Linked DNA regions of Homo sapiens: all the other regions are linked to region 4. Evidence: fine-mapped expression QTL. A gene starts in region 4. Each other region holds a variant in brackets. All regions are shown on one strand. Distances are between the middles of the regions. Region 1 overlaps NLRX1 (NLR family member X1). Region 2 overlaps ABCG4 (ATP binding cassette subfamily G member 4). Region 3 overlaps CBL (Cbl proto-oncogene). Region 4 holds the start of CBL (Cbl proto-oncogene). Region 5 overlaps CBL (Cbl proto-oncogene).

The links. PIP is the estimated chance that this variant, and not a neighbour inherited with it, causes the effect.
Region 1: its variant is the best candidate, but not a certain one, in a credible set for the expression of CBL in whole blood (TOPMed, PIP 0.71).
Region 2: its variant is the best candidate, but not a certain one, in a credible set for the expression of CBL in whole blood (INTERVAL, PIP 0.76).
Region 3: its variant is the best candidate, but not a certain one, in a credible set for the expression of CBL in thyroid (GTEx, PIP 0.77).
Region 5: its variant is the best candidate, but not a certain one, in a credible set for the expression of CBL in sigmoid colon (GTEx, PIP 0.55).

Annotation. Positions count from the first base shown.
Region 1 is chr11:119,176,710-119,181,879 of GRCh38, reverse strand. NLRX1 (NLR family member X1) reads right to left here. Exons shown (of 10, transcript NM_001282144.2): 7 at 1,592-2,187; 8 at 623-709. Among named protein-coding and RNA genes, the nearest start is that of NHERF4, 6.2 kb to the left of the region's middle. The variant G/A (reference allele first, on the strand shown) is at 2,065.
Region 2 is chr11:119,156,106-119,161,275 of GRCh38, reverse strand. ABCG4 (ATP binding cassette subfamily G member 4) reads right to left here. Exons shown (of 15, transcript NM_022169.5): 7 at 4,824-4,947; 8 at 4,598-4,712; 9 at 4,262-4,404; 10 at 2,944-3,042; 11 at 2,551-2,719; 12 at 2,347-2,447; 13 at 891-1,049; 14 at 620-738; 15 at 1-395. The coding sequence ends at 170. Among named protein-coding and RNA genes, the nearest start is that of ABCG4, 9.6 kb to the right of the region's middle. RefSeq lists enhancers at 2,206-2,705, 4,129-4,629. The variant A/G (reference allele first, on the strand shown) is at 2,137.
Region 3 is chr11:119,291,738-119,296,737 of GRCh38, reverse strand. The region is part of intron 12 of CBL (Cbl proto-oncogene); the gene reads right to left. Among named protein-coding and RNA genes, the nearest start is that of MIR6756, 19 kb to the left of the region's middle. The variant G/A (reference allele first, on the strand shown) is at 2,319.
Region 4 is chr11:119,203,784-119,208,935 of GRCh38, reverse strand. It overlaps CBL (Cbl proto-oncogene), which reads right to left and starts at 2,597. Exons shown (of 16, transcript NM_005188.4): 1 at 2,324-2,597. The coding sequence starts at 2,518. RefSeq lists silencers at 2,080-2,139, 2,330-2,519, 2,590-2,979, 3,020-3,089.
Region 5 is chr11:119,273,250-119,278,249 of GRCh38, reverse strand. It overlaps CBL (Cbl proto-oncogene), which reads right to left. Exons shown (of 16, transcript NM_005188.4): 4 at 4,226-4,382; 5 at 3,297-3,418; 6 at 2,116-2,253; 7 at 406-493; 8 at 1-84. Among named protein-coding and RNA genes, the nearest start is that of MIR6756, 37 kb to the left of the region's middle. The variant A/G (reference allele first, on the strand shown) is at 2,831.

The DNA.
Region 1 (5,170 bases), 27 kb after region 4:
GAGTCAGAGTAGGGGAGCTGGCCTTTCCTTCCCTCTTCCCCTGACTCCCTTCTTATCTATTCCCTTCCTTTTCACCATTTCCGTTTCCCTTTTTCTGCCTTTTTCACCCCCTCCACAGCCTCTGCTTCTCCCTCCCCTCTGACTCCCCTATCCTTCTCCCTGCTCTTCCTTTTTCTCTCCTCATTTGCCTCCCCTTACACCAATCAGAAACTGGGAACCCAGGAGCTCAGGTTCCCCACATATCAGTCAACACTTAAGGGGTGTCTACTGAGTGCCCAGCATTAGGGTCCTCCTCGGGAGGCTGCAAGAAAAATCCTGGGAGGGGATCAGTGGCACTGTTACCAGGCAACCGGCCTAGGTATTATTCCACCCTCTCTCCCCACCTCCCCCAGGCTGATTTTAGCCACGTGAGAGGTTTCTTAGCACCCATTACAGGTGGCATGTTTCCCTGCTGCCCTGCTGCTTGCAGTGGACCTGGGGGAAGTGGAGGGGACAGGTCAGGGCCTAGACTCTCCTCCATTTACTATCCCTTGGGTGGGTCTGTGCCAAGTATGTCAGGAAGCAGGGAGCTCACCCTTGACCTTAGCTGGCCACCAGGATGCCCCACTCCCAGGTCACTCACCGCAGTGTGGTAATTTGGCACTGGTCATGCAGCAACAGGTCTCGGAGGTCCTTGCAGGCCTCAGGGCCCAGGCTGTTGAGTTGCAAGCTGGAGCAGAAGGTGGCCAGAGGGGAGGTGAGAGACCAGGGAGGGAATTCAGCAGGCAGTCTGTCCATCTACCATGCCTTTTTTTCATCAGCCTGCCTCTGGGAATCTATACCTGCTTCCCCTTTTTTGAGAGACAGGGTCTCACTCTGTTGCCCAGGTTGGAGCACAATGGCATGATCACAACTCACTGCAGCCTCAGACTCCTGGGCTCAAGCAATCCTCCCACCTCAGCCTCCCGAGTAGCTGGGATGATAGCTACATGCCACCACACCTGACTAATTTTTTAATTTTTTGTAGAGACAGGGTCTTGCTATGTTGCCCAGGATGGTCTCAGACTATTAGGCTCAAGTGATGCTTCTGCCTTGGCCTCCCAAAGCAGTGGGATTACAGGCAGGAGCCACCATGCCTGGCTCCTCCCTTCTGTTGCTCCTGTCACCTCCACCCAAACTAGACTTTTTTTTTTTTTTTTGAGACGGAGTTTTGCTGTTGTTGCCCAGGCTGGAGTGCGATGGCATGATCTCAGCTCACCGCAACCTCCGCCTCCCAGGTTCAAGCAATTCTCCTGCCTCAGCCTCCCAAGTAGCTGGGATTACAGGCATGCACCACCATGCCTGGCTAATTTTGTATTTTTAGTAGAGACAGGGTTTCTCCATGTTGAGGCTGGTCTCGAACTCCTGACCTCAGGTGATACGCCCGCCTTGGGCTCCCAAAGTGCTGGGATTACAGGTGTGAGCCACTGCTCCCGGCCCCTAAACTAGACTTCTTCATCCCACCTTCTGGTCACTCATCGGTACCTCTGGTTTCCCTGGCACTTTCTTTTCCCACTTCTTCACCTCCAACCCTCTTCCCTCTTCATGCCTGTGCATGAGGATAGGTCCTCACCCCAGCTTCCGGGCACGCAGGAAGACAGGCAGGAGTGTGCGCAGCCCAGCAGGATCTAGCTGGCAGGAGGCCAAGTTCACCTCATCCAGGGCATGCCTTCCGCTGCCCAGCACAGCTGCCACCACTGTGCACTTGACTGGTGTCATGCGCACACCTGCCAGGTTGAGCTGACGCAGGGAGCTGAGCACCTCAGCGGAGAAGCGCTGGTTCTGGAACTCATAGTGGAAGAAGAGGTGGTCAAGGAGCTCTGATGGGGGCAGCACCTGCCGGCCCAGCTTGCCCAGCTTCTTCTTGATGGCCTGGGCATTCTCCAGGGCATCCAGGTTCTTGATGGGGCAGCCAAGCTGAGCTAGCACAGCTCGGTTGTGGGCAGAGAGAAGCCCCCCCATGAACATGGGGAAGAGCTCGAAGACTTCATCCTCAGGGGGCTCATCTGGGTGGCGCCGGGGGCCCTCCACGCCCAGGATACTGGC[G/A]CCCATCTGGTCCAGAACATCATCGTTGTAGTAGTCCTCCTCTCGAAACATCTCCAGCACCATGGCCTGAGCCACCGCCTCCCGGCTTTTACCCACCATGCGCCCAAACACTCGTGGAACCACCTGAAAAAGAAGCAGGGGAGAGTCACTGTGGCCTTCCATGTGCCTGTTCAGCCTTCAAGGTTCAGCTTAAGGTACACTCCCATGACTGCTCCAGCCCTGTGATCTCCCCTTGAACTTAGCATAATTTGTCTGATCATGCTACTCCCCTGCTGCGACACCTTCCATGGCTCCCTACTGCCTATGTGGCAAACTCCAAACATTTAGCCTGGAATATGAAACGTTTCTTAAAACTAGAGATGGGGTCTTGCTGTGTCACCTAAGCTGGTCTTGAACTTCTGGGCTCCCTAGCTTAGGCCCCCCAAAGTGCTAGGATTATAGGCATAAGCCACTGCACCTGGCCCAAAACTTTTCATAATTTGGCCCTAATTTGACCTTTCCAGGGTCATCTCTCAACACCTGTCTCATGTGCTGCAGACATTAGGAACTTCTTTCTCTTTCCCAAACACCCTGATACATTTTCAAACCCAGGAGGTGGTGAGAAGGAATTAGCATGTATTACACACTTAGTTTGGGACCGGGCTAGGTATCACAAATACATCACCATCTTCAACATGCAGTTCCTACTGCTTTAAGGGCCTGTGTGATCTGGGCCCTGCCGACTACGATGCCTTCATCACAAGCCTCTTGGCCCCACTCGCTATGCTCCTGCCCTTTCGGCTTTTTTCATCTTAACAGTGCCAAGGTTTTTCCTCCTTCAAAGCCTCCATAGGCCAGGTGCAGTGGCTCATGCCCGTAATCCCAGCACTTAGGGAGGCCGAGGTGGGAGGATCACTTGAGCCCAGGAGTTCTAGACCAGCCTGGGCAATGTAGCAAGATGCCATCTCTATTAAAAAAATTTTCTTAATTAAAAATAAATTAGCCAGGCATGGTGGCATGTGCCTGTAGTCCCTTGAGCACTGGAGGTCAGGGATGCAGTGAGCTGAGATCACACCACTGAACTCCAGCCTGGGCAACAGAGCAAGACCCTGTCTCAAGAGAAAAAAAAAAAAAAAAAGCCTCCAGGGTGCTGCCCTTTCCTGGGGCATTTCCCCTCCCCCAACTTCTTCCTTTGGCTAATGCTACAAGGGTCAGACGACATGCCCTTCCACAAAGAGGCTCTCCTGACCCCGCAGACCAGTTCCCCCACTATACACTTTCATGGCATCTGGGGCTCCTTCTTCCCAGGCATTTGCTGTAATTTTTCCTTATATGGTTACATTGATATTTTTGTGCTCAAACTGTGCAGGAAGTAGCAGTTTCCTTCTGGGAGAGGAGCTCAGACTAGATCAGAAAGGGCTGAAACCTGTAGTTTTGTTAACTGACATTTCCTCAGATTCTAACACATTGCCTGGCACACAGCAGGCACTCAAATATCTGACAAAGAAATAAATGTTGGGGGTTTGTGATATCTTCCCCCATTCCTGCAATGGTTCTGAAAGGGAAGAAGGGTCATTCCTCTGGCAACAAACCATGACGTTGTTTTGTGGCACGTCCTTTAACATCTGGGTTTTTTTTACTTTTTAATGTTTTAATTTTTATTTGTTTAGAGACAGAGTCTTGCTGTGTCACCTAGGCTGGAGTGCAGTGGTGTGATCATAGCTCACTGTAGCCTTTAACTCTTAGGCTCAAGCGATCCTCCTGCCTTGGCCTCCTGACAGCTGTGACTACAAGTGTGCCCCACTGCACCTGGCTTGTTTTCATGTTTATATGTGAGGTTACTCTCATAGAGGTGATAGTGCCCCTTCTCCAACACCAACCTGTGACAGAATATGTCACCCTGTGAAGCTGAATCCACAGGATGGTGAATAAACAGATGGGCTCAGTGCTCTGCCAGGGCAACCCTCCCTCCAAGAGGGCTTGGGGGTGCAGGGCTGACAATTCTGCTGGGTTTTCAATAACTGGGGGCTTTCTGAATCCCCTCGGGAGACTGCAGCCTCTCGTTGCAACTCAGGTCCGGCAGGCACATCCTCAAGGCGGGGTGGCCTCAGCAGCAGCTGTGACCTCCTGTCGGAGGTGATGTGTGAGAAGGGGTGGGCTGCCCGAGCCTGTTTCTTTGTTTCTTTCTTTTTTCTTTTTTTTTTTTTGTGAGACAGAGTCTCGCTCTGTCACCCAGGCTGGAGTACAGTGGCGCGATCTCAGCTCACTGCAACCTCCACTTCCTGGGCTCAAGAGATTCTCCTGCCTCAGCCTCCCGAGTAGCTGGGATTACAGACACGTGCCACCACACCCGGCTAATTTTTGTATTTTTAGTAGAGATGGGGTTTCACCATGTTGGCCAGGCTGGTCTGGAACTAAGTCTGTTTCTATGTGTGACAAACAATTAAACAGCATAGGCCGGGCGTGGTGGCTCACTCCTGTAATCCCAGCACTGTGGGAGGCTGAGGTGGGTGGATCACCTGAGGTCAGGAGTTCAAGACCAGTCTGGCCAACATGGAGAAACCCTGTCTCTACTAAAAATACAAAAATAAGCCGGGCATGGTGGCAGGTGCCTGTAGTCCCAGCTACTTGGGAGGCTGAGCTGGGAGAATCACTTAAATCCGGGAGGTGGAGGTTGCAGTGAGCAGAGACGGTGCCACTGCACTCCAGCCTGGGCGACAGAGCGAGACTCCATCTCAAAAAAACAAACAAACAAAAAACAATTAAATAGCACTTACCATGTCCTAGACCCTGAGGATGAGTTCATTTCATCTTCATATTAGGCCAGTGATATAAGTTCTAGTATTATCTCCATTTCACAGATAAGGAATCTGAGGCACAGAACTAAGTAACCTGTCCAAAGTCTCACAGCTAATAAGTAGCAGAGCCTGGATTTGAACTCAAATAGCTGAGTTACCAAATCCCTGTTCTTAGCCCTTATGCTTTGGTGCCTATAAAAATAAAAAGTTGGCTGGGCACAGTGGTTCACACCTGTAGCCCAGCACTTTGGGAGGCCAAAGTGAGAGGATCACTAGTGAGACCCCATCTCTACAAAATTAAAAATTTTTTATTTTTTAATTTAATTTAA
Region 2 (5,170 bases), 48 kb after region 4:
AGCCCAGGCTGGGAGCGCAGTCCGACAGCCAGCCTGTGGAGGAGCCAAGGGAGGAGAGGATAGCCCCGCCAGGAACCAGTGCCCAAGTCTATAAGGTTAAAACAGTCCCAAAGGGCTGGGACTGGGGGCTTCCTGCTGCAGGGGCTGGGGTACAGGCTGGGGCAAGCCTCTATCTCTCTGACTTGACCCGGTAACGCAGCACAAGGTAGGCCAGCAGCCGCAGGGCTAGGAAGAAGATGCCCAAGACCAGGAAGTCCATGTAGAGCTTGGCATCCTCCACATCCAGCGCTCGGAGGATGCTCTGTGGCTCCCGGAACGGGCAGCGTTCCTCTAAACATGTCAGGTCTCCTCGCTCCATGCCATAGATCGTCAGGATCACACCCTCAAAGCCATACCTAGGCAGGCAGGGATATCAGATGGGATACAGCACACAGGGTCCCTGCTCTCTGAGAAAACTGCCAGAGCCCAGCTGCAATGCTGTCATCCCTGGGGTGCAGCCAGGGTGCCCCTGCCCAAAGGATAATGGGGCAGGCAGCAGACTTGGCACAACCCAGGAAGCCCTGGGTATGGACTCCTCCAGGGAGGAGCAGAGGCCAACGAGGAGGGCAGGGGTACTGACCTGACATAGGAGAGATAGGAGCTCCATTGCAGGTAAGTGGGGATGGTCTTGAAGCTGACAAAGAAGCCGGAGAACAAGAGGACAGGGATGGCGGTAACTGGGCCCACAAAAGTGGCCACCTAGAGGGGAAGGGAGGGGGCCAGGCCATCATAGGGGTGACCAGGACAAACCCAGGTTTCCTAGAGCTCCACCCTAACCCTTGCACCAGGCCCTGCTTCCTCCCACAAGACCTCATCCCGCCTTGGGAATTCCCAACTGCCAGCCCTCCCACCTGTAGGGAGTTGGAAGCAGCTCCGATCAGCAGCCCCAAAGATTGGGCCACCAAGGCGGTGGCGGTGGCCAGGGCTGAGAAGAGCAGGAAGCGGCTGGTCTCAGCGGGCTGGCCCGTCATCCAGTACACAATGCTGCAGTAGACCACCGGACACACCACCTGGGGAGTGGGCACGGGCTGGACAGTGGACTTCAAGCCAGGGGCACAGCAGCCAAGACCTCCACTCCACCCAAGGCTGGGCCTCTAGAATACCTATTCCCAGGGTGTCCATCCTGCCTCCACATTCTTGTTCAAGCTGTCCCCCAGATTGACACACGTCCCCTTCCTCCCTGGCCATATGACCATCACTTATCTCGTCTCACGTCTTCCGTTTGGTCCACCCTGACTGCTTCAGGCACGGTGACTCTTCCCTTCCCTGAGCGCCTAAAGTCCTTCCCACCTGGACCAGCTTATTCGTTATATTGTTAAGTAATTAACTCTCCATAGGAGAGCCATTTTGTTCCCCCATGAGCTACCAACTCCTAGGGGGCAGGGTCTGAGCTTACTAAGTACAGTCATCCACTGCTCAAGGGCATCCAACCAAGAGCCAACCAGGCCAAAGGTCCAGCTTGTGCTCTTCTTATTAAGCCAAGCATCCTGTGACGGTGTCCACCCTGAGGAAGGGGCACCTTTTTCTAACTTGCACAGATGTGCCCTATGGATTACTGGTGGCCCTGATGCTTGGAACAGGGTGGTATTGGCGGTAACAACAACCAGCTAACATTTGCTGGGCACTTCGTATGTGCCAAGCACTATTCTAAGTACTTTATATACATTAACTCATTCAATTCTAACAATCCTGAGGTAGATACTATTGTCATTCCATTTTATAGATGGGTACACTTTAGCAAAGAGAGTGATTTGCCCAAGATCTTGCAGGTAGCAAGTGGCAGTAAGAGCCAGAGAGTACACCATTTTCTACTGCCCCTAATAAGAGTTACAGAGTCATTTGTAGGGTTATTGCCCCCAGTAGCTGGGACTACAGGTGCACAACACCAAGCCTGGTTAATTTTTGTATTTTTAGTAGAGATGGGATTTCGCCATGTTGCCCAGGCTGGTGTCAAACTCCTGAGCTCAAGTGATCCTCCAGCCTCGGCTTCCCAAAGTGCTGGGATTACAGGCGCAAGCCACTGCGCCTGGCCCTATAGGGTTATTTTCATCATTTTCTGTTTGTTGTCAGTTGTCCTCACTAAAACATAAGTTCCAC[A/G]TGGTCAAGACTACATCAGTCTAGTTCAATGCTATATCCCTAGGGCCTGGTACAGAGCCTGGGCTATGACAGGTACTCACCATCTATTTGCTAAGTGAGTAGAAGGACAGCAAAGGAAGGAAAGTGACAAGTTTGAGGGAGGCAAGAAAGCAAGGATAGAAGGAGCAAGACAAGATGGAGGCAGTGGGCAGGTGGGAGGAAGAGGCCCACCTGAAAGGGCACGTCAGCCATGGTCTTGGCCAGGTAATACGCTTTGAGGCTGTACCAGTAGTTGAGGTGCTCCCTCATGAAGACCGCCATCTCTAAGGGGACTGAGGACACAGGCTGCTTAGGCACACCCGGCCGACACCCTGGCCCCTGCCCCAAGCCCCAGCACCCACACCCTTGCCCCATGCCCAGGGCAGCTCAGCTCACAGGTGAGCACAGTTGGCATGAGGGCGGCGAACATGAGGAACAGCATGGAGAAGAAGAGGCAGCCGGTGTTGTTGAAGACCTTGCTGGCATCGTCGCCAATATGCAGGTAGAGGAGGCCGATGAGCACGCCAATAACCACGTGGGACATGAACCGTAGGTGGGTCAGGACCTTGGGAGGGGTCATCACCAGGAGAGGGATGTGTTACAGGCCAGGGCAAGCCACAGAGTAGACTTGGAGTAGGAACTCGGAGCTGCCCTCACAGGCACAGAGACCCCACAGGCACATTGCAGGGCTGTGAGGGAGGGTCCCCATTCCCATTTCAGCTGCTGGGATCCTACAGCCCAAAAGGTCAGGCCTGTGCCAGCCTCCTCTCCCCCAGCCTGACGCCTCACCGTGTCCCTGAGGATGGACAGGAAGGTCCTCTTGAAGAGGATGCAGAACTGTGTGAGGGTGCTGGTGGCAAAGGTGTGGCTTTCAATGGGATCCACTTCCTGGGAAGAAGAAATTGGATCGGGATCAGGTGAGCCTACCCCATTCACCCACAGAACACCCAGCTCAGTGAATGAAAAACCTCAGAGCTCTTCCCCAGGGTAGGGGTCCTCCAGGTCTACAGAGAATCTTGTACCATTAAGTTGTGTACCTGAAAGCTAGGCTTAGGGGTATGAATCAGAGCAAGATTCAGACACAAAAAGGGGGCAAAAACTTGGGAGGGAGGAGATGGAAAGAAAGTAATGGACACCCGTGGTGGCTAATAATAGATCGGTTACTTTTTTAATCCATCAAAACACATGAACTCTAAGGGTATAATTCCTTTTTTGTTTTGTTTTGGGTTTTTTTTGTTTTGTTTTGTTTTGTTTTTGAGACGGAGTCTCGCTCTGTCGCCCAGTCTGGAGTGCAGTGGCGCAATCTCAGCTCACTGCAAGCTCCGCCTCCCTGGTTCACGCCATTCTCCTGCCTCAGCCTCCCGAGTAGCTGGGACTACAGGCGCCCGCCACCACGCCCGGCTAATTTTTGTATTTTTAGTAGAGATGGGGTTTCACCGTGTTAGCCAGGATGGTCTCCATCTCCTGACCCACCCGCCTCGGCCTCCCAAAGTGCTGGGATTACAGGCGTGGGCCACTGTATCCGGCCAGGTATAATTCCTTTATGCCACCAATTTTACAGTAATGTTATTTAATAATGATGATAATGACAACAATAACAACAAAAACTAATCAATCTGGTTTTCAGGGGTTACAGTGTCTCATTTAAGGAAGAGAACTAGCACTGGGCAGACGCCTGCTGTACCAGCTACAGTGCTAAGAGCTTTATGTGATTATCTAATTAGTCCTCCCAATCACCCTGTGAGGTGAGTATCATCATCTCTAAGTTAGAGAGAACAGTAAGCCACACTGGCCACTAAGCTGGGGACCATGTTGATCTTGCTTACCAGATGGGCACTATGCCAGGACCGAGGACAGCACACTGTAGCTGCTCAACAAGAACTTGCTGAATGAATAAGTCAATGAGGAAACTGGAGCTCAAGGAGGTTAAATAATGTGCCTAAGGTCACAGTGCTGTTCCTAGTAGGTCGATTCCAAGTCCTAGGTTCTTCCTAGCACCCATTGGTTGCAATGCCTCTGGGGAACAGCCTCTTTGGCAGGGCCACTGTCCATGGTCCAGTCTCCCCTCCCCAACTATGCCTGCTCTGCCCTCTCCACCCCTACTCACCGGAGGACAAGGAGGGCATGGGGCAGGGACCTCGTTCTTCTCAGGGCTGCTCTTCTTCTCAGCCATAGCGCACAGCCCATTCTGCACAGCCCTGAACAACATGGGGTTCAGGTCTCCATACTCGCCAGAGGCCACCTCGATGACTGGGGACACAGAGTGGAGAGCTCAGTTTAGATTCACACTCACTTCCCAAGGGCAAGTCAGTCCCGCCTTGGGTGTGTGGGGAAGGCAGGCGACGGTGAGATCTCTACCCCTAGGAGGCCTGAGTGCAAGACCAGAGACCCCAGGTTCGGCCCACTGCTGTTTCCCAGCCCCTACCAACAGACCCCCACTCACTGAAGTCAGCCGGGTTGTGGTAGGTGGGGCAATGCAAGCCGAGTCCCTTTAGATAGGGGATCAGGTTGGTGACCACGCCTTTGAAGATGCACTGACCCTGGCTCAGGATGTAGAGCTGCAGCAGAAAGAGAAGGGTAAGGAAGGAACAGCGGGCCAGGCACCCCTACTGACCCCCTTCCATCCCTCCATCTCAGGCCAATCCTCCTTGAGGCCTGGAGACACTCACCTTGTCAAACATCTCAAAGAGCTTGGCACTGGGCTGGTGGATGGTGCAGATGATGGTACGGCCCCCCTGTGCCAGGGACTTCATGAGGGACACCACTTGGAAACAAGAGGCGCTATCCAGACCACTGTCCAGAGAGAGGCCACCAGGGGGCCACGTGAGGTGGGTGAGGCCAAAAGAAGGGAGTGTCTGGGGCGGGGCAGCTGCTGTGAAGGGGATGAAGCTGGCAGGAAGAGGGCACTCTGGCCGCATCTGTATCCTTTACGGTTCAGGCACTTGGAGGGATACCCAGAAGCCAAGAGCACTGTTCAGTTTCATAAGCATATATTGAGGACCTGTTGTATGCCAGG
Region 3 (5,000 bases), 88 kb before region 4:
ATGTCACTTTCAACTGACCAAAGGTGCAGCTTTTATGCTTCAGAGGTGATATACTGGGCTAATCACCTGAGATACTGGTTAGTCCTAATCCCCCACAGAAGTTTCATTATAGAGTCCCAGGCCCTAGAGTTAGAGAAACGGCAAGATTTTTTCTGACAATGTTAGAACTGTAAACTAAATTCCAATTCTAAACTCTACCTATGGTTTCAAGGAATGCATAGCTTGTCAAAAGCTTTCTCAAACTCCTTGTTTTATATAAGAAAAATTTAAAATAGAGAGAGATAAAGCGACCGCAGTTAGCGTAAATTCTGAGGCTAGATCCCAGATCTACTGACTCCCACATCAAGGATCTGGCTGTTATATCCACATGTAACTTTCACCCAGAAACTTTGGAAACAAGACTTCTGCCACCGCATGAAATGAAATGAAAAAACTCCCAAGAAATACAAAAACACCCCACTAAATTGTAGGGGGGAAAAAAAGACACACAAAAACCTACTTCTTGGAGTGTGAATTTGTGTTTCTCCTCCCTTCCTATTATTTTTGCATATCCTAAAGATGCTACAAGGAGCATCTCTTTCGTTTGTCTGCTTGATGCTTAGTTTTCCTAATTATAAAAGCAACACATTTATAATACACACATAAGTGCTATAGAAACTTAACACAGAACATAGAAGTCCCCTTTAATCTCACTTGAGGTTTTTTCTTATATCTACATATTACTTTTATTAGGTTGGTGCAAAAGTAATTGTGTTTTTTGCCGTTAATGGGAAATATCCACTTAAGATTTGTGCAATGCATGCTGAAGTTCTGAGGCAGAAGTGTATTGGTATCTACAATTTACTTTGAAAACATCAAAAGACAGACATATAGTCTGATAAAACAAGTATAATAAAATGCTAAAAGTAGAATCCAGGTGATCAGTATATGGGTGTTCACTGTAAAATTCTTTCACCTTTACTATCTTTGTAACTTTTCACAATAAAATGAGATGGCGGGAGGACAGTCCATATTCAGAAAGAAACACCTAGATTTTTCGCTGGAGCACAGTGGCATGATGACAACCCACTGCAGCCTTGATCTCCCGGGCTCAAGTGATCCTCCCAACTCAGCCTCCTCAGTAGGTGGGACTAGACATGTGCCACAATACCAGGCTAATTAAAAAAAATTTTTTTTTTTGTAGAGACAGAGTCTCACTATGTTGCCCAGGCTGGTCTTAAACTCTTGGGTTCAAGTGATCCTCCCGCCCCAGCCTCCCAAAATGCTAGGATTACAGGCCTGAGTCACCCCACCCATCCCTAGTTTGTTCTTAATGTGGTATTTGGCCACACGGTGTCAGTGAAGGTGTAGGGAAATGAATGGGTACTTTGTTACAGAGCTGTAGAAATAAGGAATTGATACGTTTCTGTTGTGTAATTCAACAAAAGTATTTACCAAACATGCATACTCTTGGTCTCAGAAATTCCATTTCTGAGAATTTTCCCTAAGGAAACCATCAAGAACATTCACTGCAGCATTATTTATAATGCTGGAAAATTAGGCAATAACTTCAATACCAAATAATAATGTACTGAATAAATACTGAACCACACAACTGTGTCCCCAAGTGCCTTAGAGGTTCCAAGCCGGAGCCACGGAAGCCTACTGCTGCTTCTACTACAATAGATCTGTTCTTATCTATTTTACAAACTGAGATTCCACTTTAGTTACACTGATGTATAATCGTGAAATAATTTGAAAATCATTGCAACAGAATATGTAATAACATGCAAAGATGTTCAAGATATTTTTAGTGAAAACCAGCAATGACAATATGATTTCATACAAGGAAGAATGGCAATGAACATGTATCAAATTGCTAACTATTGTCTGATAGGATTACAGGTAACATTTATTTCTTCAGTGTTGCTTACCTATATTTCCTTTTCCTTTTTTTTTTTTCCTTTTTGAGACGGAGTCTCACTGTGGCACCAGGCTGGAGTGCAGCGGCGTGATCTAGGCTCACTGCAACCTCTGCCTTCCAGGTTCAAGCGATTCTCCTGCCTCAGCCTACCGAGCAGCTGGGACCACAAGCACATGCCACCACACCCAGCTAATTTTTGTATTTTTAGTAGAGACGGGGTTTCACCATATTGGCCAGGATGGTCTCGATCTTGACCTCATGATCTGCCAGCCCTGGCCTCCCAAAGTGCTGGGATTACAGGCGTGAGCCACCGCACCCAGCCTGCTTACCTATATTTTCTAAATTTTAGTTAACATGTATTATTTTTGTAAAAAGGGCCATTAAAAAGGCAATAATTTTTTTTTTTTTTGGAGAC[G/A]GAGACTCAGTCGTCCAGGCTGGAGTGCAATGGCGTGATCTTGGCTCACTGCAACCTCCACTTCCCAGATTCAAGCATTTCTCCTGCCCCAGCCTCCCAAGTAGCTGGGAGTACAGGCACCCGCCACCACACCCAGCTAATTTTTGTGTTTTTAGTAGACACAGGGTTTCACCATGTTGCCCAGGCTGGTCTCGATATCCGGACCTCAAGTGGTCCACCCACCTTGGCCTCCCAAAGTGCTGGGATTACAGGCGTGAGCCACCGTGCCTAACTTTTAAAAATTTTAATTATAATTCTCTGTTAATAAAGTCCATAAAATACATAATTGAACCTCCTTCTCACAAAGCATGTTGGCAATATATGCTTTAAAAGAAAGAAGACACTGGAGAGCAACCAGGCAGCCACGACTTAACAGGCTAAGATTCAAGAAAGAATACATTAGAGTAAGCCCTGTATTAGGGGTTTTGAACTAGGCGTTTAAAGTAGTCTCAATGGGCTGGTGAGAATGCTACGATTTAAATATGTCCCCCAGTTTCACATGTTGGAAACTTAGTTACCACCTTCATATGCTGATGCCTGGTTACAAGGCAGCAGGAAGGCCCTCACCATGCCAGCGCCATGCTTTTCAACATTCCAGCTTCCAAAAGCGTGGGCTAAATAAACTTCTTTTCTTTATAGATTACTTAATCTCAGGTATTCTGTTATGACAACAGAAAACAGACTAAGAAGAGACAGGAATTTTGGGGTATAATGACAGCCAAGGTATAAGGGACCAAAAAATACAGAGGAGGGAACAGCAGAGAAGTATACCTGAAATGCCAGCAATTTTCCCTAGAGCTATTACAAATCCCTAAACTGTTTACGCTTGGGGCTAGATTTTGAGAAAACAAGCAGAAAGCAGCAATTGAAAAGCTAAATAGATATTTTGGCTGTCTTGCCAAGCTGGACAGAGTTGGAGTTACGTATGGCCATTAAAATAATAATTTATGTGTTCAATAAAAAAAAGAAGATGGGATGGGCACGATGGCTCACGTCTGTAATCCCAGCCCTTTGGGAGGCAAAGGTGGGTGGATCACTTGAGGTCAGGAGTTCAAGACCAGCCTGGCCAACACGGTGAAACCCTGTCTCTACTAAATATACAAAAATTAGCCAGACGTGGTGGTGGCACATGCTTGTAATCCTAGCTACTCAGGAGGCTGAGGCAGGAGAATCGCTTGAACCTGGGAGACAGAGGTTGCAGAGAGCCGAGACTGCACCACTGCACTCCAACCTGGGCGACAGAGTGAGACTCTGTCTCAAAAAAGAAAAAAAAAAGGATGGAATCGATACATTTTTAAAAATCACATGGAAATACTAGAACTTAAAAATACAACACAGACATCCCCAACTTACAATTTTTCAACTTTACAATGGTGCAAAAGTAATAAACATCAAATACACTTCTCTACTTACAATGGAGTAATATTTGGAAAAACCCAGTCGAAAATACTGTAAGTCAAAATGCACTTTCAATTTACAATGGGTTTACTGGGACATAACCCCATCTTAAGTTGAGGAGCAACTGTATCGAAAAATAAAACTGGGCAACACAGCAAAACCCCGTATCTACACAAAATACAAAAATTAGCTAGGTGTGGTGGCACACATCTATAGTCTCAGTTACTAGGGAGGCTGAATAAATTTAAAAATCAAAGAAAATAGGCCGGGCGCAGTGGCTCACGCCTGTAATCCCAGCACTTTGGGAGGCCAAGGCGGGCAGATCACGGTCAGGAGATTGAGACCACCCTGGCTAACGTGGTGAAACCCCGTCTCTACTAAAAAAATACAAAAAATTAGCTGGGCTTGGTGGCGGGCGCCTGTAGTCCCAGCTACTCGGGAGGCTGAGGCAGGAGAATGGCATGAACCCGGGAGGCGGAGCTTGCAGTGAGCCAAGACTGCGCCACTGCACTCCAGCCTGGGTGACAGAGCAAGACTCCACCTCAAAAAAAGAAAAGAAAAAAAGAAAATAAAGTATGCCAAGAAAAAAATAATGGAAAAAAAAAAAAAGACATCAGCATAAGAGCTCTCGGAGACATAGTGAAAAGGTCTAACATTCCGGAAAAGGTAGTCCCAGAAGAGGAGGACAAAGAGGGACTGCAATATTCAGTCTGTTTTCAGGAAAAGTGGCTGACAATGTCCTAAAACTGATTAAACATATCACAAACTAAATAAACTTTACCAAACTTACGGAGGTTTGGTTCTAGTTAGTGTCTGAAAAAGAAAAGGAGGCCAGGGTGCAGTGGCTCATGCCTGTAATCCTAGCACTTTGAGAGGCTGAGGCAGGTGGATCATTTGACATTAGCAGTTCGAGACCAGCCTGGCCAAAATGGTGAAACCCCATCTCTACTAAAAATACAAAAATTAGCCAGGCATGGTGGCACATGCCTAAAATCCCAGCTACTTGGCTGAGGTGGGAGAACTGCTTGAACCTGGGAGGCAAAGGTTGCAATGAGCTGAGATCACAGCATTGCATTCCAGCCTGGGTGACAGAGTGAGACTCTGTCTCGAAAAAAAAAGTATGAAAACTTATGAAGGATTAAAAGATAAATATAAACAAAACCACAAAGGAAGATACAGTAAAACTGCTGGGACCCAGAGCAGGGGAAAACGTTTTGTAGGCAGCTAGGAAAATAAGCATTATCA
Region 4 (5,152 bases):
AACTATCAAACCTGAAAAGCAATTTGAGTCTAAACTTTGAGTCCTCTTTATTCTTCCCAAATAATTAAACATTCTGCAGAATAAATCAAAATTCAATACACATACTTTAAATAGATGAAGGAGTAAGACTTAAGGGAGGATTTTATTTGGGCTACCTTGTAGAATAGGACTATCTACAACTTACTCTGTATTTATAGAAACACTTTAATAAGAATACAGAATACTCTTATTCTTTAAGAATACAGGGCCAGGCCCAGTGGCTCACACCTGTAATCCCAGCACTTTGGGAGGCCGTGGCGCATGGATCACCTGAGGTCAGGAGTTCGAGACGAGCCTGGTCAACATGATGAAACCCCGTCTCTACTAAAAATACAAAAAATTAGCTGGGCGTGGTGGCGCGCACCTGTAATCCCAGCTACTCGGGAGGCTGAGGCACGAGAATGTCTTGAACCCAGGAGGCGGAGGTTGCAGTGAGTCGAGATCGCACCATGCACTCCAGCCTGGGTAACAAGAGCGAAAAACTCCGTCTCAAAAAAAAAAAAAGAATACAGAATACAGAAACTCTTTAGTAAACAGATTATTCTTAAGCAGAGGCCACTAATCAACACAATTTTGATTGTACTGCACCCACATGTCTGATACGAGACACTCATTAGAAAAGTATTTTTTCTATGCCAGAGTAAAATTTGTAGTCCTTAACGATAAATCCCTAAAAAGCAAACTAACAAACTTTAGCATTTGAATATCTTCGATGTGTTTTTTTTAAAGGAGTCGACACATTTAAAGTTTCCTTTACACACCTAAACTTTCTGTAAGGATTTTATTATAATTTCTAACAATAAAATTAGTACTACACCACCAATATAATCAACACACGAATACTTGTGTCATTAATTACAATACCAATTATTTAACATGAGAAAAGCCAGCCCTAAAAAGGTGGCTATGAAACCACTGGCATGCACTACTGGAGTGTTAATTCACACACAGGACTTATTAAGCATTTAAATTGCACATTACATTGGCTAAGTGCTTCATAATCATTTTATTAGCGGTTTCTAGTCCAAAGCAACCCATGAAGAACTTTACAGAAGAGGAACCGAGGCCCAGGGAGGAACCAAAGAAAACCAAATTTTACCCTGGAGGAAATAACACCATTCTCTTAAAACGTGCCAGATACTTCTAATCACTTTTCATACGCAATATGAATTTTGTCAAAGTAATTAATTAAAGAATATGAAAAATACCAAGAAAACGTATTGAATTCTGACAAAGCGTCCGACTGCTTAAACAGTTAAATACTTGAGACTGACTACATTTCATCATATAGACACAACTATAAGGAAGTAAAATTCTCCCAAATGACAAACTTAGTGGCTAAATATAAAGGAGTTATTTTTGTTCGCACTTGCAAAAAGCAAACAAACAAAAAAGCGTAATCAAAGAAGCTCAACGAACAAGTTTAAAGTCAGGACCTGTAATAAGGAGTCAGAACCGTTACCAGAAAAAAAGAACCCAGCTCAAGCGATGTAGTAGGGAGGAAGTTATTAAGAAGTCAGAATCTGCTGCTGCTTAACAGGCTCAGCCAGTCCATCTTTCAGAAGATAATAGTTCTAACCAGAACTTGTGGTTTAATCAGTGCATATCTCAGCACCAGCAATGGATCACATCCAGTGTTTCTGAGGGTAACAAAAAACTTGAGCCGGCGCTAGATGGGGAGGAAAGTTCTTTCCTTGCCTCACTTAAACATCAATATGTCTTTTATCTTCGTGTTACATCTTAATGAGAAAGGACTATACTCTCACCCAGAGCACAGCTTCCCTGAGAGCTGTCCTGACCCCAGCCAGGTTCCTCAGTCAGAGCCCATGAACCTAATTCCCTAGTCAGATCTCACCCAGCCAAGAGCCCCAGCCGGTACATCACTCTTCCTCACCCCCTCCCTGCTAACCTCCCAGGCCAATTCCGTGACCTACATCCCTACACCCTGCACAGAGCCCCAAACTCCGCACCCCTCATTGTACTTCCGCCCCACTGACTTCCCAGTTAACCTTCGCCCCAGCCCCCACTCCATCTTTGTCTGGCTACCCCAAACGCGGCACCCCAGCGTTCCCCGACTCCCAACGGCAGCCCCTCCCCCACGCCGCCCCCCACCCTCCCGGCCTCGTCCCTGCCCCCACGCCCCCGGCCGGTCACCCCGGCTCCGCGCCTCCCCGGCTTCACCAGACCCGTCCCCTCCCCCGCTTCCTCCGTCCGCTCGTTCCCCTCCCCGCGGCCCTCCGCCCACGCCCACCCTGCAACAGCGGGCGCTCAGCCGGCCTTTCACCTTGTCCATGAGCTTCCAGCACTTCTCCACCATCTTCTTGTCCACCGTCCCCGGCGGGTGGGGGCTGAGGTGGTGGTGGTGGTGGTGGTGCGGCTGGAAGGCGTCCTTCATGAGCCCAATCAGGCCACCCGAACCCGAGCCCCCGGAGCCGCTGCCGCCCCCGGCCCCAGAGCTCTTCTTCACGTTGCCGGCCATGGCCTGGGCAGGGTCGGAGCCCAGGCGGGTCCGCCGGCTCGGCTCGACTGCGAGCGAGGGAGAGAAGCAGGGCGTGAAGGAGGGGCCTCTCCCGGCCGCCGCCGCCGCCGCCGCCGCCGCCGCCGCCGGCTATCCGGGCGGAGGGAGGAGCGGCCGTGGGGAGGGGAGTGGGCGGCGCCGGGAGTGCGCGGGACGCGCCCCTTCAGAGCGCGCGAGCCCGGGGCGGGCGGGGCGCGTCCCGGAGGCGGACCGGCTTACTGGTAAGCTCGGGGAAGCGGCCGGCCGCGGCCGGACTGGGCAGCGACGATCCCCGGGCCACCGGCTTCGAGCAGCTCGCGTGCCCACAGCTCCCGGAAAGCCGCGGCCAGGTTTCTGTGCCCGTCTTCCCCGCCCCTACGCCGGGGCGGGGCGGGGCCAGGCTGGGGCGGGGTCGGCGGAACCTTTGGGCCTGCGCCCTCTGCTGGAGAAACGGGGAAAGGAGCGGCGGGGGGTTGGGGAGTAGGTCCAAGGTGGAGTCTGCGCAGTAGCCAGAAACCAAGACTTCCATGCTCCTTGTGGGCGGGAGGTTGGCGCTTCTGGGGTGGGTCATGGGAATGTTTAAATTAAGACAGGTGGCGATGGAATGGAAGAGTCCTGATGTCAAGTCTTTCCCCACCCCTGACAAATGAGGAAATCGAGCTTAGAGTTATTTGTTTATTTACACTGTGGGAGGATGGTGGGAGAAAAAGGAAAGTTATTTCTCCACCCCTTATTATTTTCAATTCTTCATTAAGACACGACCAAGGACAGGAATATGAATGCTGCGGCCCATTCCAGCCGGATTAGGCCCCAGAAAGCCTTGAGACACTCAAGCCAGGACCTCTTCTTCCAGGCCCTTTGACCTCTTGAAAAGAAATCACTTCCTTTTTTTATTTTTTATTTTTATTTTTTTGGCTTGTGAAGACTAGTTACGTTTCTGGGAATTGAATCTCAAACATGTATTTAAGATTCTCCTACTCAGAGCATTGCACCACAGGTCGGCGCCGCCAGCATGAGGGCCCCCTCAGAAGCTGACCTGCTGCTGGCTCCGCCCGAGGGGGTTCTCTCTCCCGCCCAGGGAACAGAAATGCTGTTCCTGGTCACTTCCACTTCTCAGTCAATTACACTTCTCTAATGTAAAAGTTCCGTTGGAAGAACTTTGAAAATAGGAACTTCCCTTCCAAAGAGGGAAGTGCCCTGCCCTAATTTACTAATTCTGAGCCTCAGTTTTGGGAGTTTGCAGACCCAGGTGTGTCAGTATCAGTTCCGCCTTCGATCCCCCTCCAGGCTCTTCCACAAAGCCCTTGACAGATTAGGGAGTTAAATTTATCCGGTGCTCCTGTAAAGGGGAAAATATCTTTGAATGCAGGGACCATTCAGACAGGCATCCTGGGTTTGCAATTTAATCGCCTTTATCTAGAATTGATTTTGGAGTCAACATTATAATTTACTATCAGAAGAATTTCCTTTTATCATTTTCCATCCAGGAAGAGAAGAATCTACAAAGGGAAAATCTAGGCAAAGCTCCATCCCTTAGTGCCAACACCTAGTTGCAGGTCCTCCGTTTCTTTTCCCTGGACTATTGAATATTGAAACCTTTTCCTGTGCCTTCAATTCATCCTGCCACCATAGGCTTCCTAAAGTATAGTTCAGACAGCATCGCAAAAAAACTTTAAACACCTCCCATTGCCTCGGGAATAAAATTGACAAGTTGCTCTAACTCCAAGCTAAACAACCTTGTAGTTTTATACTACTCCCTGGTACACATGTCTTATGCTAGCTGACTCACCAAGTCATCAAATACAATTATTTCTTTTTTATTTATTTATTTATTTTATTTTATTTTGAGACAGAGTCTGTCACCCAGGCTGGAGTGCAGTGGCACAATCTTGGCTCACTGCAACTTCTGCCCCCCGAGTAGCTGGGATTACAAGTGCCCGCCACCACACCTGACTAATTTTTGTATTTTTAGTAAAGATGAGATTTCACCATGTTGGCCAAGCTGGTCTTCAACTCCTGACCTGAGGGGATCTGCCCTCCTCAGCCTCCCAAAGTGCTGAGATCATGGGTGTGAGCCACCGCACCTGGCCAATTCTTTCTTTTCTCATCACCGTTACTCAGACTATTCCCTTATTCCATCTGCCTGAAGTATGCTTTAAAATCCAATCCATTCGGCCCAGCACAGTGGCTCACACCTGTAATCCCAGCACTTTGTGAGGCCGAGGGAGGCGGATCACCTCAGGTCAGGAGTTGGAGACCAGCTTGGCCAACATGGTGAAATCTTGTCTTTACTAAAAATAAAAAAATGAGGCCGGGCGTGGTGGCTCACGCCTGTAATCCCAGCACTTTGGGAGGCCGAGGCAGGTGGGACACGAGGTCAGGAGATCGAGACCATCCTTGGCCAACATGGTGAGACCCCATCTCTACTAAAAATACAAAAAAAATAGCTGGGTGTGGTGGCGCACGCCTGTAATCCCAGCTACTCAGGAGGCTGAGGCAGGAGAATCGCTTGAACCCAGGAGCCAGAAGTTGCAGTGAGCCCAGATTGTGCCACTGCACTCTAGGCTGAGCGACAAGAGTGAGACTCTGTCTCAAAAACATAAATAAACAAATAAA
Region 5 (5,000 bases), 69 kb before region 4:
AATCTTTACATCCTTATCATTTTCAGCACATATTTTACATAGTTGGAATGTGGAGCCCATCTCACAGTATAATTCATATTGTTCCTTTGATTAAAAAAAATTAAAAGACTATTAGTTGAATAAATAACTGCAATTATAAATGTTAACAGAAAAAGTGAAGACTTGTTTCCTATACAAATTTTGCTTATATAAAAATGTCACAACAGTGGTTTATTTTTTATTAAACCAGAAAGCATCTAGTCTGGGTCCTATTTTAAGCTCCAGGGTTTAAAGTGAAACCACATACACACAAATTCACTAATCTAGTCAATGGGTTCCAATGAATTCAATTATGCTGTCAGTTCTATAAAGAATATACTAAAGCTTGTGTCCAGTGATATGGTTATCATGTGAAACAAAACTCACCTGGGTCACTTTGATATGGTCTTGGGGAGTTGGTTCACATAAGCCAGTCAGATCAGGATTCTGATTTCGTCCATCAGGAAACAAATAGCTGTAAAGAGTAACCAACCCTGGGTTTTATTTAAGCCAATTTGCCAGTGCTTGCTAATATAGACAAATGGAATCTGGGAGTTTCTCCATTCTAAAAGGGCAACGTGGTGTAAGTATAAAGATCAATCTTACTTCAAAAAAAAAATACTTCCAAAAAATAATACTTCAAAAAAATAAAAAACACAGAACAGTTTAAAGATATTCTCCAAAAACTATTATTCCTTCTCCAGGTAACAATGCCATAGGCTCTATCTTTTAATCAAGGGGTTGGTTAGCAAGCTTTTCTGTAAAGGGCCAGATAGAAAATCATTTAGGATTTGTAGGCCACATTAGTCTGTGTCACATATTCTTCTCTGATTGTTTTTTTCAAAACGACTCTTAGGAAAAGCTATCTTGGCTCCCCGGGGGAACAAACAGGTGGCCCATGGGTCACAGTTTACCAACCCATTTTTAATCAATGGATGGCCACCAGATAGAAATTCTTTATGTGTGTGTGTGTGTGTGTGTGTGTGTGTGCGCGACAGATTCTTATTTTTTTTTTGAGGTTGCAGTGAGTGATCTTGGCTCACTGAAACCTCCGCCTCCTGGATTCAAGTGATTCTCCTGCCTCAGCCTCCCAAGTAGCTGGGATTACAGGCACCCACCACCACGTCCGGCTAACTTTTTGTACTTTTAGTACAGACAGGGTTTTGCCATGTTGGCCAGGCTGGTCTTGAACTCCTGACCTCAGGTGATCCACCCGTCTCGGCCTCCCAAAGTGCTGGGATCACAGGTGTGAACCACTGCACCCGGCTTAACTTCTTAGTTTAAACTGCATTTGCTTTTGATCAAAGAAGGTTTACAGGTTTAAGAAAATGAGAGACACCAATTTAAAAGCAATGTAACAATATGCAAATTAAGCTACTGAGATCATCTACCAGGGAGATCCACAGTTTCTAGCATCAAACTGTTCTGACATTTGGGGCAGCACTCCTTTCAGTCCCAATGCTATTGTAAGTAAAAGATAATGTATAATATAAAATGTATTTTCCTAATCACTTCAAAACACAAGCTAGTTTTCTGCCATCTGGTCAACTGTTAGTATTTTTAAGTGTTTACCAACTGATAATTAATTTGAATTCTCAAAGGAATAGCAATTCTGGAATAAATAAGGACTTAGTTATAAATAGCAGCATAGGTTACAGTAGCCCAAGGCCTGAAGAAATGCTGCTGAACAAAAGCGAAGTGAGGATGAAAGCAGATGAAGGCCACTGAGGCCTATGGCTATTAGGAACATTGAATCACTTGAATGCCGACTAGTTAAATAACTGGTCAAATTTCCTGCTAATTGGTATATTTTAAAACCTAACACAGGCTTGAAAATAAGTTAACATTTGGAAAAAAGAAAGATAAAGTTTATTTATGGTAATAACTGAAGTGGTAGAGAATAATTTCACTCATGGAATCCCTAAAAAAGAAAAACAAAAGTCTTCCAGGACCTGAAGGTCAAATCAATATCATCTGTTAATATTTTCCTGAATCTTAGTCTGCAGTTTAAGAAACCTGGAATAAAGTCATTAATGATGAGGTTGGACAGCCCCTAAGTTCCCAGACTCTAACAGATGGTATGCAGTAGGTACTCACAAGCCTTCCCTGAAGCCATCAATCAGTGCTTGGAAGAGAGGTTTATTGTGAGGGATTGTCTGGAGAATGTTCCCATCAGCAGTAACATACCCAATAGCCCACTGACCCAGACGAGTACAGCTCAGCCGGAAGATATAACTATGAACAGACATAAACAGAAGCTTTAGTAGATTATGCTGGTATTACGGTGGAAGGCAAGGCAAGATACAGACAAAAATCAAAAGAACCATCAAGAATAACAATAACTTTCTTCCTTTCTTTCTTTCTTTTTTTAAGATGGAGTCTGGCTCTGTCACCCAGGCTAGAGTGCAGTGGCACAATCTCAGCTCACTGCAGCCTCCACCTCCTGGGTTCAAATGATTCTCCTGCCTCAGCCTCCTGAGTAGCTGGGACTACAGTATGTGCCACCACACCTGGCTAATTTTTGTATTTTTAGTAGAGATGGGGTTTCGCCATGTTGGCCAGGCCAGTCTTAAACTTCTGATCTCAAGTATCTGCCCACCTTGGCCTCCCAAAGTGCTGGGATTACAGGTGTGAGCCACCACACCCAGCCAAGAATAACTACTTCTGAGCTTCAAGTCAGTGACAAGAAAAAAGAAAGAAAATATTTTTAAAAAGAGAGTAACTTCTTCCATGACTCCACACCAGAAGCAAAAGACACATAAACTCTATTCTTTTTTTGTTTTTGTTGTTTTTGAGATGGGGTTTCGCTCTT[A/G]TTGCCCAGGCTAGAGTGCAATGACATGATCTCGGCTCACTGCAACCTCCACCTCCCAGGTTCAAGTGATTCTCCTGCCTCAGCCTCCTGAGTAGCTGGGATTACAGGCACCCGCACCACACCTGGATAATTTTTGTATTTTTAGTAGAGACAGGGTTTTACCACTTTGGCCAGGCTGGTCTCAAACTCCTGACCTCGTGATCTGCCCGCCTCGGCCTCCCAAAGTGCTGGGATGACAGGCGTGAGCCACTGTGCCCGGCCATAAATTCAATTCTTAAGTGGCCTGAAAACATTTATCAAATTATAGGATCTGAATTAAGTCAATACGTCTGATAAACAGGTATCAATCCTATTGCAGAACCTTGGCTATTGCGAAACTAATTAAGGTCATGTTTCTTCTATACTAGCAGAAGTCTCAAGATAACGAAATTCAGAAGAATAAATCTCTTTGCGTCATTGAACTGACCTGCCAGGTTTGTGAATGAATTTCTGGAGCCGAGCTTTCACTTCGTCATACGTCAAAAAAGCCATGTAGCCAGGATGAGTTACAGCAAGGCTGTTCCAATTCCTGAGCAAAGAGGACCAGGGCTAAAGAAACAAGATCAATCACAGACTATTCAGGTCAGATGTACAACCAACTCAGAGGGCAATGAGAAAAAAAAAAAACAACACCAACTCTCAGTTCATTGTCAGAAATTTTTAATTATACCATCACTCAGAGAGAAGACACATGTGTTCAGGAGATTAAAAACTCTGAAAAGCTACGAAGAAAAGAATATATGCTTATAGGGAGAAACTTGACACAAAATGAAAATTCTAGAATTTGTAAAGCAGCTCTAATTAACAGTAGTGGGGTTGAACAACAACAAACTGAAAACCAGGATAGGGCCTATAGGTGCAACTAATAAGTTCCAAATAAATGTGTATGCAAATTGGCACAGACAACACCAGAGAAAGCATTATTTTTAGAGAAAAAGAAAGGAGTTGTTTTTGAAGCATCTAAACATCTCAATATTAACAGTCAATTTCAATAAAACAGGAGAAACAGTTGCAAACATACACAAATATCCAATATCAGAAAACTAATATATTCATATTCTGGCCATTCTACAAACATTAAAATGATACAAAAGAAGAATATTCAATAACAAGGAAAGATGTGAGGAGAAGAAAGCAGTTGGTATAGCTGTCATTTTCACTATATATACATACACACACATACATATATTTTTAATATGAGATAGTTTTAATCTTTTTTTTGGCATAGTTCCTAAAATGAATTAAAATACTTTCATACAGACAAAAACCCCAAATGTTATTTAAAAAAAAAAAAAAAAAGCTTTCTCTTCACCGAAGTAGCAGTAACCAGTTTAGTCAACTTTTTTAGTGTCCTACCTGAAAGAGTCGGGTAAAGATGTCAAATTCAAAAACCGAAATATAATCATTGCAGGTCAGATCAATAGTGGATTTCAGAGCCATGGCCTCCAGCCCAGAACTGATGGGATGCACTTCATGTAGAGCCTGTCGAAAGCTCTTCCAAGGGACTATTGTCCTGGGGAGGGGGTGGAGAGGAGGCATAAAGTGAAATAACAGAGATAATTCCAGGCATCGCCATAATCAAGGAAAGGAAGGAGAGCCACATTAAGCTCTCAATACCAATTTCAATTCTCGTAATTCAAAATACAGGTCAACTTCTTTAAGAAAAGAAAGAAGGGGACCAGGAGCCATGGTGCATGCCTTTGGGAGGCCCAGCACTTTGAGAGGCCAAAGTGGGCAGACTGCTTGAGCCCAGACTGGGCAATATGGTGAAACTTTGTCTCTACAAAAACAAACAAACAAACAAAATTAGCCAGACTAATTAGTTCCAGCTACTCTGGAGGCTGAGGGGGGAAAATCACTTGAACTTTGGAGGCAGAGGTTGCAAGTGAGATCGTGCCACTGCACTACAGCCTGGGCAACAGAGTGAAACCTTGCTGCAAAACAAGAAAAGAAAAATAAAAAATAATTTACAAATAAAGACCAGGTCTTGTAATGTCATCCAGGGTAGTAGTCTCAAACTTCTGGCCTCAAGAAATCCTCCTGCCTTGGCCACCTAAAGTGCTGGGACTACAGGAGTGAGCCACTGTGCCTGGCCAAAAATGAAGGCCTTTAAAGAGAAACTTGGGCCTAA